Linked DNA regions of Homo sapiens. The protein of the gene in region 2 interacts with the protein of the main gene of each other region in a biochemical or structural test. Each region holds a gene or a part of one and is shown on either strand. Other genes may lie near its edges.

Region 1 (3,409 bases), on a different chromosome or scaffold from region 2:
CAGATTCATCAAGATCCTCGATAGTGTCCTGCACCACCTGGTACCTGCCTGGGACCACACACTGGGCACCTTCAGTGAGATTAAGGTGAGCCGACCCAGCCAGTGCTGGTCTTGGCATTTCCCCTTCCTGCTCACGTAGTTGTTCATTCCTTAGCAGAGTTCCTAAAATCTACTCTAGGGCAAGACCTTTGCTGGGTCTGGGAACATAGGAAGAAAGCCAGAACAAATGGTCCAAATTTAGTGTTTGGGAGGCTGTTCCCCAGCCTCCTTGGTATTCCAGAGTGTGTGGAATACCCAAGGGCTATTGACAGCACAGGCAGGGCAGTTTGCGTGAAAGGTACATACAGGGAGTTACCAGCAGCTCAAGATGTCTTGAGAAAAGTGTGCCAGTAGGTGTGAGTATGACAGAGGGATGAGGGTGGAAGGATGTGGGCAGGAGACAGGTCCTGGTTGCAGAGGGCCCTGTGGGCCAGGCTGTGAAGCAAGGACTTTGTCCCAGGGTAGTGGAGCTGTTGGAAAGGTAAGGAAGGTAATGACAGTATTAGATTTTTTTGTTTTAGAAAGCTCTCCCTGGTGGCTGAACTAAGGAGGGGACTGGAGACAAAGACAGGGATGGACTAGACTTGAACTGAAACGGTGGAATTGGATACAGGCAGAGGGGAAAGTTCCAGGGCCTGGACGGAGGCTGACTGCCCACTCATTCCTGCTCTGGCCACCTCTCCTCACTAGCAAGTGAAGCAGTTCCTACTGCTGTCCCGCCAGCGGCCAGGCCTGGTGGCTCAGTGCCTGCGTGACTCTGAGAGCAGCAAGCCCAGCTTCATGCCACGCCTATACATCAACCGCCGTCTTGCCATGGAACACCGTGCCTGCCCCTCTCGAGACCCTGCCTGCAAGAATGCAGTCTTCACCCAGGTCTGCACCACCTAGGGTCCGACTGAGATAGGATCAGTCAAGGGCCAAGGGGGCTAGGCCAAGAGGGACCTGAACAAGTTCTTGGGGCAAGTATAGGGCCAGGTCTTGCTTTCCTATGACTCCTTTCCTCCTTGCCTCCAGGTATATGAAGGCCTCAAGCCCTCTGACAAATATGAAAAGCCCCTGGACTACAGGTATGGCATGAGAGTGAGGGACTTACTCGGGACACCTGTTTGTGCACACAAACACACACAAACACACACACACACACACACACACACACACAACTGCTCGAGGCACCCCTCGCCATGACTGCTTTTCCCAGGTGGTCTCTGAGCTGATGAATTGTGCTGCACCTGGCCCCACATAATGACAAATCTGCCCACGTTTTTTGCAGGTGGCCCATGCGCTATGACCAGTGGTGGGAGTGTAAATTTATTGCAGAAGGCATCATTGACCAAGGTGAGGCCCTGAGGGAGGATCTCAAGGGTCCTGCTTGCTGCCCTATCAAAGTGGTAGAGGCTTTTCACCAGCTAATGATGATGGGGGACCTATTCATTACCCCATTATGGGAGCTGGGCTCTTGAGTGCCCAGCTGAGGGCATCTGTCATTTCAGGGGGTGGTTTCCGGGACAGCCTGGCAGATATGTCAGAAGAGCTGTGCCCTAGCTCAGCGGATACCCCCGTGCCCCTGCCCTTCTTTGTACGCACAGCCAACCAGGTAATCTCCGTTTCCATCTCTGCAAACCTCCCAGGTGCCAGATTGAGCTAGAAAGGGGGCAGAGGAGGGGGCCAGATTGAGCTAGAAAGGGGGCAGGCACAGTGGCTCACGCCTGTAATCCCAGCACTTTGGGAAGCCGAGGCGGGCAGATCACGAGGTCAGGAGTTCAAGACCAGCCTGGCCAATGAAGTGAAGCCCCATCTCTATAAAAATAAAAAATTAGCCGGGCGTGGTGGCACGCGCCTGTAGTCCCAGCTACATGGGAGGCTGAAGCAGGCGACTCGCTTGAACCCAGGAGACGGAGGTTGCAGTGAGCCGAGATCACGCCACTGCACTCCAGCCTGGGTGACACAGTGAGACTCTGTCTCAAAAAAAAAAAAAAATAGAAATAGGGCAGAGGAGGGACTGAGTTGCTCAGGGCAACCTCTGGGCAGACAGGGAGAGGAGGAGCCACTGTGCATTTGAAGGGATCATTTAGTGGAAAATGTTCCCAGTGGAAAATGTTCAGGGAAGTCTTTGGGCCAGGAAAATAGGGTGTATCTCATGCCACACTCACAGCTCTGTCTCTGGGGCAGGGCAATGGCACTGGTGAGGCTCGGGACATGTATGTACCCAACCCCTCCTGCCGAGACTTTGCCAAGTATGAATGGATCGGACAGCTGATGGGGGCTGCCCTTCGGGGTAAGGAGTTCCTGGTGAGTAGCCTTATCCACACCCCCGTCCGATCAGCCCTGGCCCTTGGAAGGAAAGGCCAGCCAAACCTGGGCAGCTCAGGGTGAGAAGACAGTGGGGAGTGTTTGTCACACAGGTCCTGGCCCTGCCTGGTTTTGTGTGGAAGCAGCTTTCTGGTGAGGAGGTGAGCTGGAGCAAGGACTTCCCAGCTGTGGACTCTGTGCTGGTGAGTAGGACCTGGAACCAGTGTTTCCTCTGCCCAGCCCCTAAAGGTTGGTCCTCCCTAAGGCTGTTCTGTACCTTGTTCTTTCACCACACACAAGATCCCTCTCCAATCCATCCACTCCCATGGCTTCAACTACTGTCTGTAGACTCGTGACCCCTAAAATCCTGACCTCTAGCCCCAGCCTCTCCTAAGCCTGGGGCCATATATGTATCTGTACCCTCGACGTTTGCCCCAAGATGGCATCTCAGGCTCAGTGTGTTCTTTATCTTCTCCGAAGACTACTCCCCTCTAGGGCTCCTGCCTCAGAAGGGCACCATGTCCCACTCCTCCCCATCCCAAAGCCCACAGGGCCATCCTTCACCCCTTCTTCTCCCTCGCCACCATATTCTTAAGTCTTCCTCTGTAATCTGTTTGCTTTTCCTGTCTCACTACTGTCTCCCTGCCTGGTTGAGGACACCTTTCCTCCTTAGCTAATCACTTACTAAAAAGCTGGTGTCCCTGTCTCCGTTCTTACCCGTTTGGTCTCCATGCAGCCACAGTAATTCATTTCACTCTCCTTATTTAAACTCATTGATGGCTCGGCCCTGGGCTTAGGATAGAATGCAGAATCTGTAAAGGCCTTACGTGAACCCTGTGTCTCCAGCCACTTGGTTCACATTCAGGCTCCAGCCACACAGTTTCCTTAGGCCTTTTGCTCTTTCCAGCTTTCTCCAAGATGTTCTCTCTCCTAACTTCCCTTATGTCCCAGCCATCATTTGGGTCTCAGCTGAGACACCATTTTCCACAGGATGCCTCCTCTGGCCTCCAAGGCTGGTTAGGTGTTGTCTTGATGCTTTTACAGCTCTTGTACTGACACCCTCATTCCCTGCTGCCTCCAT
Region 2 (4,043 bases):
TTTTCAACTCATTAAAGAATCTTCTCAGTTGATGGCTGTAATTATCTGTTAAGGGCATAAGATACTCAGCTGCAGTAGTGTAATATTTACTATATAGCTTAGTTGTTCCATGTTTTAAGAGCAAAATTTCTAGCTTTCGTTGGCTATTTAGTGTATACATTTATACCATAGTAATAGTTATATGATGAAATGAAGAGTAGCTAACATGCTCTATATCTTAACAGGGATTTATTCAGTGGAACTCATAAATGACAGTTTATATGACTGGCATGTTAAACTGCAGAAGTAAGTGGCTTTTTAATGCTCACCCACTCTTTGCAATGGTAGACTATCACAGTGGAGGTTATTTTCCTTCTAACTTGATACCTTTATACTATGGCTTTTACTTAGAACTTTAGACTTTGTTTCTATAGAAATAGTTCTTAGATTGTTTAAATGAGCTGTTGCTGAGGTCTAATAAGAAAGTGAGAAAGAGGAAGGACAGAAAGAGGGACCAGCTGCGGGATAAAGTGTTTTATGGAGTTAGAGCAGGGGAACTTAAAAACAAAAGTGTATTTAATAACTTCATGAGACTGTGATAACCAGTTTATATTTGAAATATATACAGCACTTTGGGAGACTGAGGTGAGAGGATCTCTTGAGCCCAGGAGTTTGAGACCAGCCTGGGCAACATAGCAAGACTTCATCTCTACAAAAAAAAAAAAATTAGCCAGGCATGGTGGAGTACACCTGTAGTCCCAGCTACTGGGGGTGGTGGGAGGCTGAGGCAGGAAGATCTTGCACTCCAGACATCAAGGCTGCAGTGAGTCACGATCGTATCACTATATTCCAGCCTGGGCAACAGAATGAGGCACCCGGTCTCTTAAAAAAAAAAAAAAAAAAAAAAAAAAAGTTGGGGGGAGGTGGGATTCAAATTAGACCTGTATATATAGGACAGTTGTAGACAAATACAGGTTTTTTTAGTGATTTAAGTTTTCATAGTTCTGACCATGGCAAACTTTTCTCCTTGAACCCTTTGGCTAATAATGTAAGTTTAATATGCTTTCCTAAACTTTTTTTGAGTTCTTGAGAAAATTATATTCATGTGACTATTTTCCTTTAGAGTGACTGCAAACTCTGAACTCCTTTACTAGATTAGATTTAGAGTATTATGGTCTCTTTTGGACATTTATTCCCAAGGAGCTGGAACCTATGGTGACCTCTATTTTTCCTGGTGATACAGAGCAGCTTTAGACCTTCTCTTTCTGGAACTTGCCCTAGGTGCTCTATTTTAGCTGTCATACTAGTTCATTTTTGAGTTTAGTTAAAAAAAAAAATCTCTAACTTTTTATTTGAACTGTTTTTTGTTTTGTAATTCTTAGGGTTGACCCTGATAGTCCTTTGCACAGTGATCTTCAGATCTTAAAAGAAAAAGAAGGCATAGAATATATTTTGCTTAACTTCTCTTTTAAGGTAAGAAAATAGTTACAGGACCCCATATACTTCCAGTGGGGTGCGTATATTTGTACAAGTGCTTTGGAAAACAATTTGGTAAAGTAGAAGATACTCATACCCTATGGTTCAGGAATCTCGTAGACATATTCTCCGTTAAGACGTGAGTACTTAGGCGTACCAGGAGACACAGGAATGTTCAGAGCAGCATCGTTTATAATAGCACCAAATAGAAAACCCAAGTGTTCATTCCAATAAAATGGAGAATTGTGGTGTTTATAAAGTGGTTTACAGCTATGTGGGACAAGATGGGTGGATCTTGAACACAGTTGTAAAAGAGACTGGACTCCAAAACCTATTTTGTACAATTCCCTTTATATACAGTTCAAAAATAGGTAAAACTAATGTTGATTAGGGCATGCATTCTTAGTGGAGGCAATATCACCTGCAGTGTAGTGAAAACTGATCTTTAGAGTGAAAACAATCTTAGCTATTAAAATGGTCTGCTGCCCTCCAAAGGGCCACAGAACATAAACAGATATACGATTTATCTATGGTGTTAAAATTCCATGGAGCAGGGGGGTAAAACTAGGAAGAAAACTTCTAAAAAGGCTTCTTAGGGGGGCAAAAATGAAAAGAAAACTGAGAAACACTTATTTATGGATTCATACGTGAGCAGTAAAACTGCCCAAAGAGGAAAACTGTCCAAGAACAAAGAGGTGATTACATACAGGTTAGGGTAAGGAGTCCATCTAGGTGGGAGGTAGGGAGGTGTGAACTGAAAGGTATATCTGCGCAGGCTTCTTGGATACTGGCTGGAATATATTTCTGGGCCAGGTTGATGGTTACATGAGCACATAATTTACAATAGCTTCTTAAGGTATATCTCTATATTTTATGTACTTTTCTGAATTTATGTGTTATATTTAATAAGGTTTTTTTTTGTTTGTTTGTTTGTTTTTTGAGACAGAGTCTTGCTCTGTTGCCCAGGCTGGAGTTCAGTGGCACAGTTTTGGCTCACTGCAACCTCTGCCTCCTAGGTTCAAGTGATTCTCCTGCCTCAGCCTCCTGAGTAGCTGGGATTACAGGTGCATGTCACCATGCCCGGCTAATTTTTTTATTTTTAGTAGAGACGGGGTTTCACCATGTTTGCCAGGTTGGTCTTGAATTCCTAACCTCAGGTGATCTGCCTGCCTCGGCCTCCCAAAGTGCTGGGATTATAGGTGTGAGCCACCACACCTGGCCTAATAAGTATTTTAAAGATGCTAAAAATAATGGTTAAAGAATAGCAATGGAATCTAGAAAAAATGTTAATGATTTTTTTTTTTTTTTGAGACAGAATCTTGCTCTGTTGCCCAGGCTGGAGTGCAGTGGCCCAGGCTGGCGTGTGGTGGCACAATCTTGGCTCACTGCAACCTCTGCCTCCCGGGTTTAAGCAGTTCTCTGCCCCAGCCCCCCGAGTAGCTGGGATTATAGGCATGTGCCACTATGTCCGCATAATTTTTGTATTTTTAGTAGAGATGGGGTTTCACCATCTTGGCCAGGCTGGTTTTGAACTCCTGACCTCATGGTACACTTCCCTTGGCCTTCCAAAGTGCTGGGATTACAGGCGTGATTTAATATGGATCTGGATGAGATGTAATGGTTTAAAATCTGTGGATATATGAGATATTTTGATGGAAAAAGCAATACTTCCTTTGTACTTACAAAAAAGGTAGTAATTTTCTAAAAGCTTCTTACGTAGCTTTTTTATGTGTGTGTTTTTGCTTGGGGATATATCTTATGATTGAACTTTCTTGAAGTGACCCAAATGTCAGTATTATCTCTCACTTTTGTTATTATAGAAACTGTTGTGGTTGTCAACTGGGTTGTCTTCCTAAAATATGAGTCTGGTATATATTGACTGAAGTTGCTAATGGCTACATTTTTACTAATTCATATGGGGGAACGAATAAAGCACCCAGGCCAAAAACAAAAAACAAAACACACAAAAAAGGAAGGTATCTTTCTTTTTAAAAAATTGAATTATATGTCCTTATGCCTAACACCAAACTTAAGAAATAGAACCTTTTTTTTTTTTATCCGTCCCTGTGGCCCCCTGTGTGCCCCTCCCTTGTCACTTCCTCTTTGAGAGGTATCTTTACGGGAATATGAAATATTGGCCAGGAAACTGGAGGATTTGTGACTATAGGTAGTGTTTTCATTATTTTTTCCTGCTCTAGGTAGAACTTCAGGGAGGGGACGATCTGGGAGGTAAATGGCTGAATTTCTGTTGGATTTGTGTTTCTGGACCATGGCTCCTGATACCACAAAGAAGGGCCTTTTCTGGGGTTGGAGTATTTCTTGAGAGGCCTAGGAAGAATGTGATTGCCTTGAGCTAACTGACCTTATGAAGAGGACCTTAAACTGAATTGCCAAGTTATTAGTATCGGGATTCACAGACTTTGGAGGATAGCAGGTATGACTCAGAAAGATTTGCAGGAAAGAGCCAGAACAGTATATATTTATGGCCTCTGATGTCCACGGTGACAACTTGAATAATAAGAAAAATGGAACTTGAGATAAAGCATAACACAAAGATGGGAGTTGGGGCAGGAGGGAATGTGACCTTG
Region 3 (3,771 bases), on a different chromosome or scaffold from region 2:
CAGCCTCAACCTCCTGGCTCAAGTGATCCTCCCATGTCACCCTCCCAATCAGCTAGGATTACAGGTACACGCCACCACACCAGCTGATTTTTTTTTATTTTGTGTGGAGTCAGGGTCTCGCCATGTTGTCCAGGCTGGTCCCAAACTCTTGGGTTCAAGTGATCCTCCCACCTTCGCCCCACAAAGTGCTGGAATTACAGGCATGAGCCACTGCACCTGGCCATGTTGTCTTCTTTTTCATTACCCACCTCTTAATCCTACACATGCACATGTCTAGATAGTATACAGAGATAAACGTGTATAAAACAACACAAATAGAAAAAGTATGCATATGTATAAGGGATCTACAAAAACAGAAAAGTCAGAAAACCCAAATTAAGAGCACAGTGTGGCTCACAGGCTAATCCCTGCAGAGGCAGCTTTGGGTTTCAGAACCAAGTGAAGCTGCCTATATGTTCAACCAACTGATGCAGCTAGCATCAACACTGCTCTCTCCTCACAGCAGGTATAAGACCAGAGCTTGGCCTCTGCATCACTCTTGCCCCCAATTTCTCTCACAGGATGACACCATACCTGAAGTTCTCACAGTTTGAGTCACTTCCTTGGGTTAAGGCGTTGTCTCCACAAGGCCACCGTGAAATGCATGGTACCTGAGAAAGGAAGGAGAGTCCATTAACACATTACTTCTATATTTTTTTGTTTGTTTGTTTTTGAGATGGAGTCTTGCTCTGTCGCCAGGCTAGAGTGCAGTGGCATGATATTGGCTCACTCCAACCTTCGCCTCCTGGGTTCAAGCGATTCTTCTGCCTCAGCCTCCTGAGTAGCTGGGACTACACTACGGGCGTGCACCCCCACGCCTGGCTAACTTTCGTATTTTTAGTAGAGATGGGGTTTCACCATATTGGTCAGGCTGGTCTTGAACTCCTGACCTCGTGATCCACCCACCTCAGCCTCCCAAAGTGCTGGGATTACAGGCGTGAGCCACCACACCCAGCTGACCTCTATAGTTAAACACATCAGATCTGCAACGACCTTGCGACTCTAAAAGCACAAAGTCTCTTTTAAAAATTTCATGGGATAGACAATTTTTAATGGAGCAGACAGGACAAAAGAAAGAACTGAGGGAAAATGATTCATACGTATTATGGGAAGACACCAATCTGAGTATGACGGCTATCTGGCAAAATGAGGATGGCCATATAAATACACCAGCCTATAAGGGTCACCATAATGATAGTCCCTGCAACTTGGAGACTCCTAGGGACAGGAAAAGAAAACGCACACCAAGGATCTGGATATAGTCAGTTCTGAAAAGAAGCAAAAAAGCTGAGCTGGCAGCAGTTTTTCAAGGACAGTACACTGCTAGACTGGAGGAGGATAGAGGCAGGAACAGCTTCTGGTTAACTGCTTCTAGTTGTGAGGATAGTTTCCAACTTAACGTTTTTAGCTGAAAGCCAACCTCCCAACCAGAGAATGCTGCAATTCAATTCTGTGAACCCCCTAACTAATTTATATTGACTCAAAGCCAGTATCATTTACAGCCATAAAAGTCAACATGCCTTTACTGAGTGCTTATTATGAGCCCAGAATTTGGCTAAGTACTATAAATACAAAAAAAAAAACCTTACATACTTTTGTCTTAATTCTTATAAAGGAAACCAATGTCCAAAACCCAAAACAGAGACTTAGGCAACAAGAAAGAAAGTGGCAAAACAACAAAACAGATGACTATTTCCTATCAGTACTAACACGAATTTTTTTTTTTTTTTCTTTTGAGACAGAGTCTCATTCTTGTTGCCAGGCTGGAGTGCAGTGGCACAATCTCAGCTCACTGCAACCTCCGCCTCCCAGGTTCAAGTGGTTCTCCTGCCTCAGCCTCCCAAGTAGCTGGTACTACAGGTGCATGCCACCACACCCAGCTAATTTTTTGTATTTTAGTAGAGATGGGGGTTTCACCACGTTGGCCAGGATGATCTCGATCTCCTGACCTCGTGATCTGCCCGCTTCAGCCTCCCAAAATGCTGGGATTACAGGCATGAGCCACCGCGCCCGGCCCTAACACAAATTTCTTAAGACAGAATGAATATAACAAAACTTACTTCTAGGCCAAAATTCCTTGTTAAACTCTTGCCTAAACAGTCAAGACGCATAGGCTAAAAATCTCCCTTTTCTTTTTCTAGTCTAATACCAGAAGCTCTTCAGTAGTGCACATTGATCTTTGTAAACCAGAGAATACCAGTCCCAGAGTTGCAAAACCCAGTTCTAGTTCTAGTTCTTACTCTTAACTAGTTTCAGGTAAATTATTTAACCTTTAAAACAAACAAACAACAACAAAACAGAAAACTAAGAGATTGGACTTATCTAAGAATAGCATATATTTGGCACATGTCTACTACCTACTAGGTAACTGTCCACAGGAGACATCATTGATCAACCATAATACAATTTCTCAGAGCACCTACAACCAGAATCCTTCCAAACACAGTGCTTCTGGCAGCTTCCAATTAGAGCTGGCCAATAAACCAAAATATATTTGCCATTATGGACTAGATAATCTCTGTAACTTCTCCCAACTCTAAAACTCAATGAGCAAGTTTCTACAGGCTGAGAGAAAAACACTCCCAACAAGCCTAGATCAATACTTTTTAGAGGCATAAATTTCAGTCCAAACTCCAAGTTCTAAATTAGCCAGGCTTGGTGGCATGCACCTCTAATTCCAGCTACTTGGGAGGCAGCTACTTGGGAGGCTGAGGCACACGAATCGCTTGAACCCGGGAGGTGGAGGTTGCAGTGAGCCGAGATCACATCACTGCACTCCAGCCTGCATGGCCGAGCAAGACTCCATCTCAAAAATAGTAACAATAACAAACTTCAAGTTCTCTTCCAAATTACACCTGACATAGTTCTTTCTAATTTCTCAAAGATGCTAATGAACAATTCACTCTCATACTATACATAACATATATAACCTGGCAATATTATTCAGACTTGCTAATGGGTTCTTTTGACAGAAAAGGAGCCCTTTACCCAGATTAGCTCTAAAAAAAAATCCTCATCTAGAAATATGGCAACAATATTGCACTAGTAAAAAGCTAAATCCAATCCTTTGATCATCCCCACAACCTCTCTCCAAGGTCAGGCTTTGTCATTTCTCAACTAGACTTCTGCAATAGCTAGTCCCTCATCCTTTCGCTCATCACCAGAGCAATCTTTCTTTTTTTGTTTTTTGATACCTATCTTTGTCCTGCAGTACACAGCAATTTTCTAAAACACATATGTACTCACATCATTTCCCTGTCGAAAAATCTGCATCTATTTCTTTTTTTTTTCCTTCCTTTTGGTAAAGACGGGATATCACCATGTTGCCCAGGCTGGTCTCAAACTCCTGAGCTCAAGCGATTCACCCGCCTCAGCCTCCCAAACTGTTGAGATTACAGGTGTGAGGCACTGAGCCCAGCCCTGTATCTATTTCTACCAACATAAAATTCCAAATTTTTAGCATTATACTTAAAATTTTTAGCCAGAGCACAGTAGCTTACACCTGTAATCCCAACACTTTAGGAGGCCAAGGTGGGAGGACCACTTGAACACAGGAGTTAAGACCAGACTGGGCAACGTAAAGAGAACCTTTCTCTACAAAAAAATTTTAAAAATTAGCCAGGCATGCTAATGCATGCCTGTTGTCCCAGCTACTCAGGGAGGCTGGGGTGGGAAGATCACTTGAGCTCTGGAGGTCCTGTCACTGCACTCCATCCTGCGTGACTGGGTGAG
Region 4 (3,771 bases), on a different chromosome or scaffold from region 2:
CTGTCAGCCCGTAGGTCTGGGCAAACAGGTTGGCAGCAGCCATCACATAGTCCAGATGCAGGGGCTAGGAGAAGGCAGGGCAGGGAAGGGTGAGCACATCAGCCCTCGAGTGGGGAGCCGCCACCTCCTTCCCACCTATTCACCCTCCACCTGACCCCAGAAGACCCTAGAAAGGAGACTTACATTGTTGACATCAAAGGTGAGCGGGTGTGGACAGCGTTTGGGCCCAGACCAGAACGGCGCTCCTGAGCTTGTGAGCTAAGGGATGGAGAGATTTTTGAGAACAGGACCTGAGAGTGAAGGCCTCTCTGACAATCTTCACGCTTCACCTAGGCCCCAGATGTGCCCCCAATTCACTATCTTGGGTTGGGCACTCGATGCGGACTGGAGCCAATCACAAAATACCTCAACTGTAGGGTCCCACAGGTTGAACCAGAGATCTGGCTGAGAGAACAATTACCAATCACTGGGTAGCCATTTTGTGCTAAACAGCCCATCATTTAACAAACTCTCATGGATTACCAGGCATTGTACTAACTTCATTTTAATAAATACCAGTTAATCCTCCCCAAACCCCCCATGAGATAGATCACTATTATTTCTACTTCACAGACGAGGAAACTGAGGTACAGAGAGAAGTTACGTGATTTGCCTAAGTTCAAGTAGAGTTTGGATTTGAACCCATATTGATTCCTGTGCTCTTAACTCCAGAATTTCTCCCCCATAATCCCTACAGCCCTGACTGGGAATCAGGTATGACGCAGCCCACACCACAGTCAAGGGCAATAGCAACCAAGCCTCTTTGCTCAAAGGAACTAGGGTGAGGAAAAAGCAGGTCAGGATCAATCACTCTTCTCAGATCCCCATGCCTCAGGGCACCTGCCACAGCTGGACTCCACAGTGGGAGGACCCACACTGCAGGCTCCCATTTCAGGGAAACACATTCTGCCAAATGGACCCAACAACTGGGCATTACCTGGTCAGGAGGGAAGTTGTGCAGCAGCTGCCGGATGTTGTTCGAGTACTGGGTGTGCCAGTGGTGGCAGGCCCAGGTCACGCAGTCAGCCCAGGTCTGTGGTCGCTGCAGCACCAGGCTGCGCTGCACAGCCTCCAGCACCTCCAAGGGCTGAGTGCCTGCCAGCCGCAGTGTTCGCTCCACAAACTTGGGGTCTCTATCAGGAATCGAAGAGGACAGAGGATAGGATTACATGTCAGCCTCAAGAGTGGGCTCCAGAGCAATCTTACTTTCTCCATGGAAAACTAGTCCCGACCCCAAACAACATGAGGCCCCAACAGCCACTCATTCATGTGAAAAGTGTGCCTGGTGCCAAGTGTTACTGTCATGAGGAAAGCAGCCGGGATGCCTTGGCTGGTGGACAGGGACAGGGCGAGAGGGCACTCGAGTTACTCACGTGAGGTACTGGTTGACATTTTCTGCTGGCTGCTTGAAGAGGCCTTCAAACTCATCCCGAGCCCACTGCAGACAGAGCAAACAGATTACATGTGGCCACAGTTGACAAAATGGGTTTCCGCAGGCATTATTAGAAGGACCATCAGTGAATAAAGCAAGTACAAGGCGCACAGCTACTCTGGAAGTGGGGAAGCCCTCTAGCCTTCCCCATTCCCCCACCTCAATTGAAAAACCAGGCCAGGCACAGTAGCTCACACCTGTAATCCCAGCACTTTGGGAGGCTAAGGCAGATGGATCACCTGAGGTCAAGGGTTCGAGACCAGCCTGACCAACATGGTGAAACCCCATCTCTACTAAAAATACAAAAAGTAGCTGGGCGTGGTGGCAGATGCCTGTAATCCCAGCTACTCAGGAGGCTGAGGCAGGAAATCTCTTGAACCCGGGAGGCGGAGGTTGCAGTGAGCCGAGATCATGCCATTGCACTCCAGCCTGGGTGACAGAGGAAGACTGTCTCAAAAAAAGAAAAATCAATGAAGTTGATTTGGGCAGTGGTTACAATAGTGCTGTGTATGTGGAAAACTGTTTTGTTTTGTTGTTTGAGACAAAGTCTCACACTGTCACCCGAGCTGGAGTGCAGCGATGCAATCACGGCTCACAGCAGCCTTGACCTCCCAGGTTGAAACGATCCTCCCACCTCAGCCTCCCGAATAGCTGGGACAGCAGGCACATGCCACCACACCCGGCTAATTTTTAAGATTTGTTGTAGAGACAGGGTCTTGCTATGTTGCCTAGGCTGGTCTTGAACTCCTGGGCTCAAACAAACCTCACTCCTTGGCCTCCTGAGTGCTGAGATTATAGGTGTCAGCCGCCATGCCCAGCCTAAAAATGTATTAAGATCTGAGTGCCAGGCGAGGTGGCTCACGCCTGTATTCCCAGCACTTTGGAAGGCTGAGGCAGGAGAATCGCTTGAACCTGGGAGGCGGAGGCTGCAGTGAGCCGAGACTGCGCCACTGCACTCCAACCTGGGCAACATGAGCAAAACTCCACCTCAAAAAAAAAAAAAAAAAAATCTGTGTACCTTATTCTAGATATGTTATGCCTCCATAAAAAATAAAAACTTCAATTAGGTATATCTTACCACAGTTTTTTAAAACACAAAAAACTCAGACCAAACCAACAATGATCCCTATCCAGGCCCTGAGGACTTGGCAGAAAACAAGACAGAGGCCGGACACAGAGGCTTACACATGTAATCCCAGCACTTTTGGAGGCTGAGGCAGGTGGATCACTTGAGCCCAGGAGTTTACAACCAGCCTGGTCAACGTAACGGGCACGCGTGCGTGCGCACACACACACACACACACGTACACACACTTACACGTACACACAGACACTTACACACACACACACACACACGTACAGACACTTCCCAGGAGTTGGAAGGTTGCAGTGAGCTATGATTGTGCCAATACACTTCAGCCTGAATGGCAGAATGAGACCTGTCTCAAAAAATAAAATAGCAAACAAGACAGAACTTCTGGCCTCTGAGAATTCCTAGGACAGTTCGCAGTCATTAGCGAGGTGGTTTGGAGTGTACAGATGTTAGAAATTCAGGTTCAGATTCCAGCTATGCCACGTATTACCTAGTTTTGTGACTTCAGGCACACAGGATAACATCTTTACCTCTGTGCCTTGTCTCTAAAACAGGTGTTACAACAGTGATACCTACCTTCATGGGGTTGCTAGGAAGAAATGAGCAAATACATATATATTTAAAGCTTGGTTAAAACAGTGCCAGGCACACAGTAAATGCCAAGTGGTTCACAATAGTCCTGTGAGGTAGATGCTGTCATTCCCATTTTACAGAACAGGAATCTGCGGCACAGAGAGGTTAAGTTCAAGGTTACACATGACCTAGCAAGACTGTGGTTGGTGCACAAATACAAACATACCCACTCTGGAACTGCAGTGTCAGAAGGGAGAAAGTGACAGATGGAACTGTTTTTTTTTTCCCTTCCCTATTTTGTTCCCACCCTCATACTCCTACTATTCTAAATGGTTTGGCCTCAAACACTGCACTAAGAATTATTCTGACAGCACAATGGTAATCCCTAGGTTCTGTTTCTTGGCCCAGGTGGTGGTCACCTGTGTGTTCACTTTGTAAAACTTCAGCTAGATCAAGCTTGTCTAACCTGTGGCCCATATGCAGCCCAGGATGACTTTGAATGCTGCCCAACACAAATTTGTAAATTTTCTTAAGACATTATGAGATTTATGCACGGATCTTTTTTTCTTTTATTTTTTCAGCTCATCAGCTATCGTTAGTATTAGTATATTTTATGTGTGGCCCGAGACAATTC

What was found.
Region 1: the proteins of UBE2Q2 (region 2) and HECTD3 form a complex in vitro, tested with the Homo sapiens proteins (one study listed by BioGRID).
Region 3: the proteins of UBE2Q2 (region 2) and ITCH form a complex in vitro, tested with the Homo sapiens proteins (one study listed by BioGRID).
Region 4: of the proteins of UBE2Q2 (region 2) and UBA1, one has a biochemical effect on the other in vitro, tested with the Homo sapiens proteins (3 studies listed by BioGRID).

What each region holds. Positions count from the first base shown.
Region 1 is NC_000001.11:45,004,916-45,008,324, reverse strand, and holds part of HECTD3 (E3 ubiquitin-protein ligase HECTD3), read left to right. Parts: intron 1-3; coding exon 4-85; intron 86-729; coding exon 730-912; intron 913-1,053; coding exon 1,054-1,106; intron 1,107-1,309; coding exon 1,310-1,374; intron 1,375-1,529; coding exon 1,530-1,633; intron 1,634-2,208; coding exon 2,209-2,328; intron 2,329-2,441; coding exon 2,442-2,531; intron 2,532-3,409. UniProt on the Homo sapiens protein: E3 ubiquitin ligases accepts ubiquitin from an E2 ubiquitin-conjugating enzyme in the form of a thioester and then directly transfers the ubiquitin to targeted substrates.
Region 2 is NC_000015.10:75,877,737-75,881,779, forward strand, and holds part of UBE2Q2 (ubiquitin-conjugating enzyme E2 Q2), read left to right. Parts: intron 1-224; coding exon 225-285; intron 286-1,361; coding exon 1,362-1,452; intron 1,453-4,043.
Region 3 is NC_000020.11:34,366,273-34,370,043, reverse strand, and holds part of ITCH (E3 ubiquitin-protein ligase Itchy homolog), read right to left. Parts: intron 651-3,771; 5' UTR 574-650; intron 1-573. UniProt on the Homo sapiens protein: Acts as an Acts as an E3 ubiquitin-protein ligase which accepts ubiquitin from an E2 ubiquitin-conjugating enzyme in the form of a thioester and then directly transfers the ubiquitin to targeted substrates.
Region 4 is NC_000023.11:47,207,329-47,211,099, reverse strand, and holds part of UBA1 (ubiquitin-like modifier-activating enzyme 1), read right to left. Parts: intron 1,478-3,771; coding exon 1,413-1,477; intron 1,173-1,412; coding exon 977-1,172; intron 259-976; coding exon 184-258; intron 65-183; coding exon 1-64. UniProt on the Homo sapiens protein: Catalyzes the first step in ubiquitin conjugation to mark cellular proteins for degradation through the ubiquitin-proteasome system.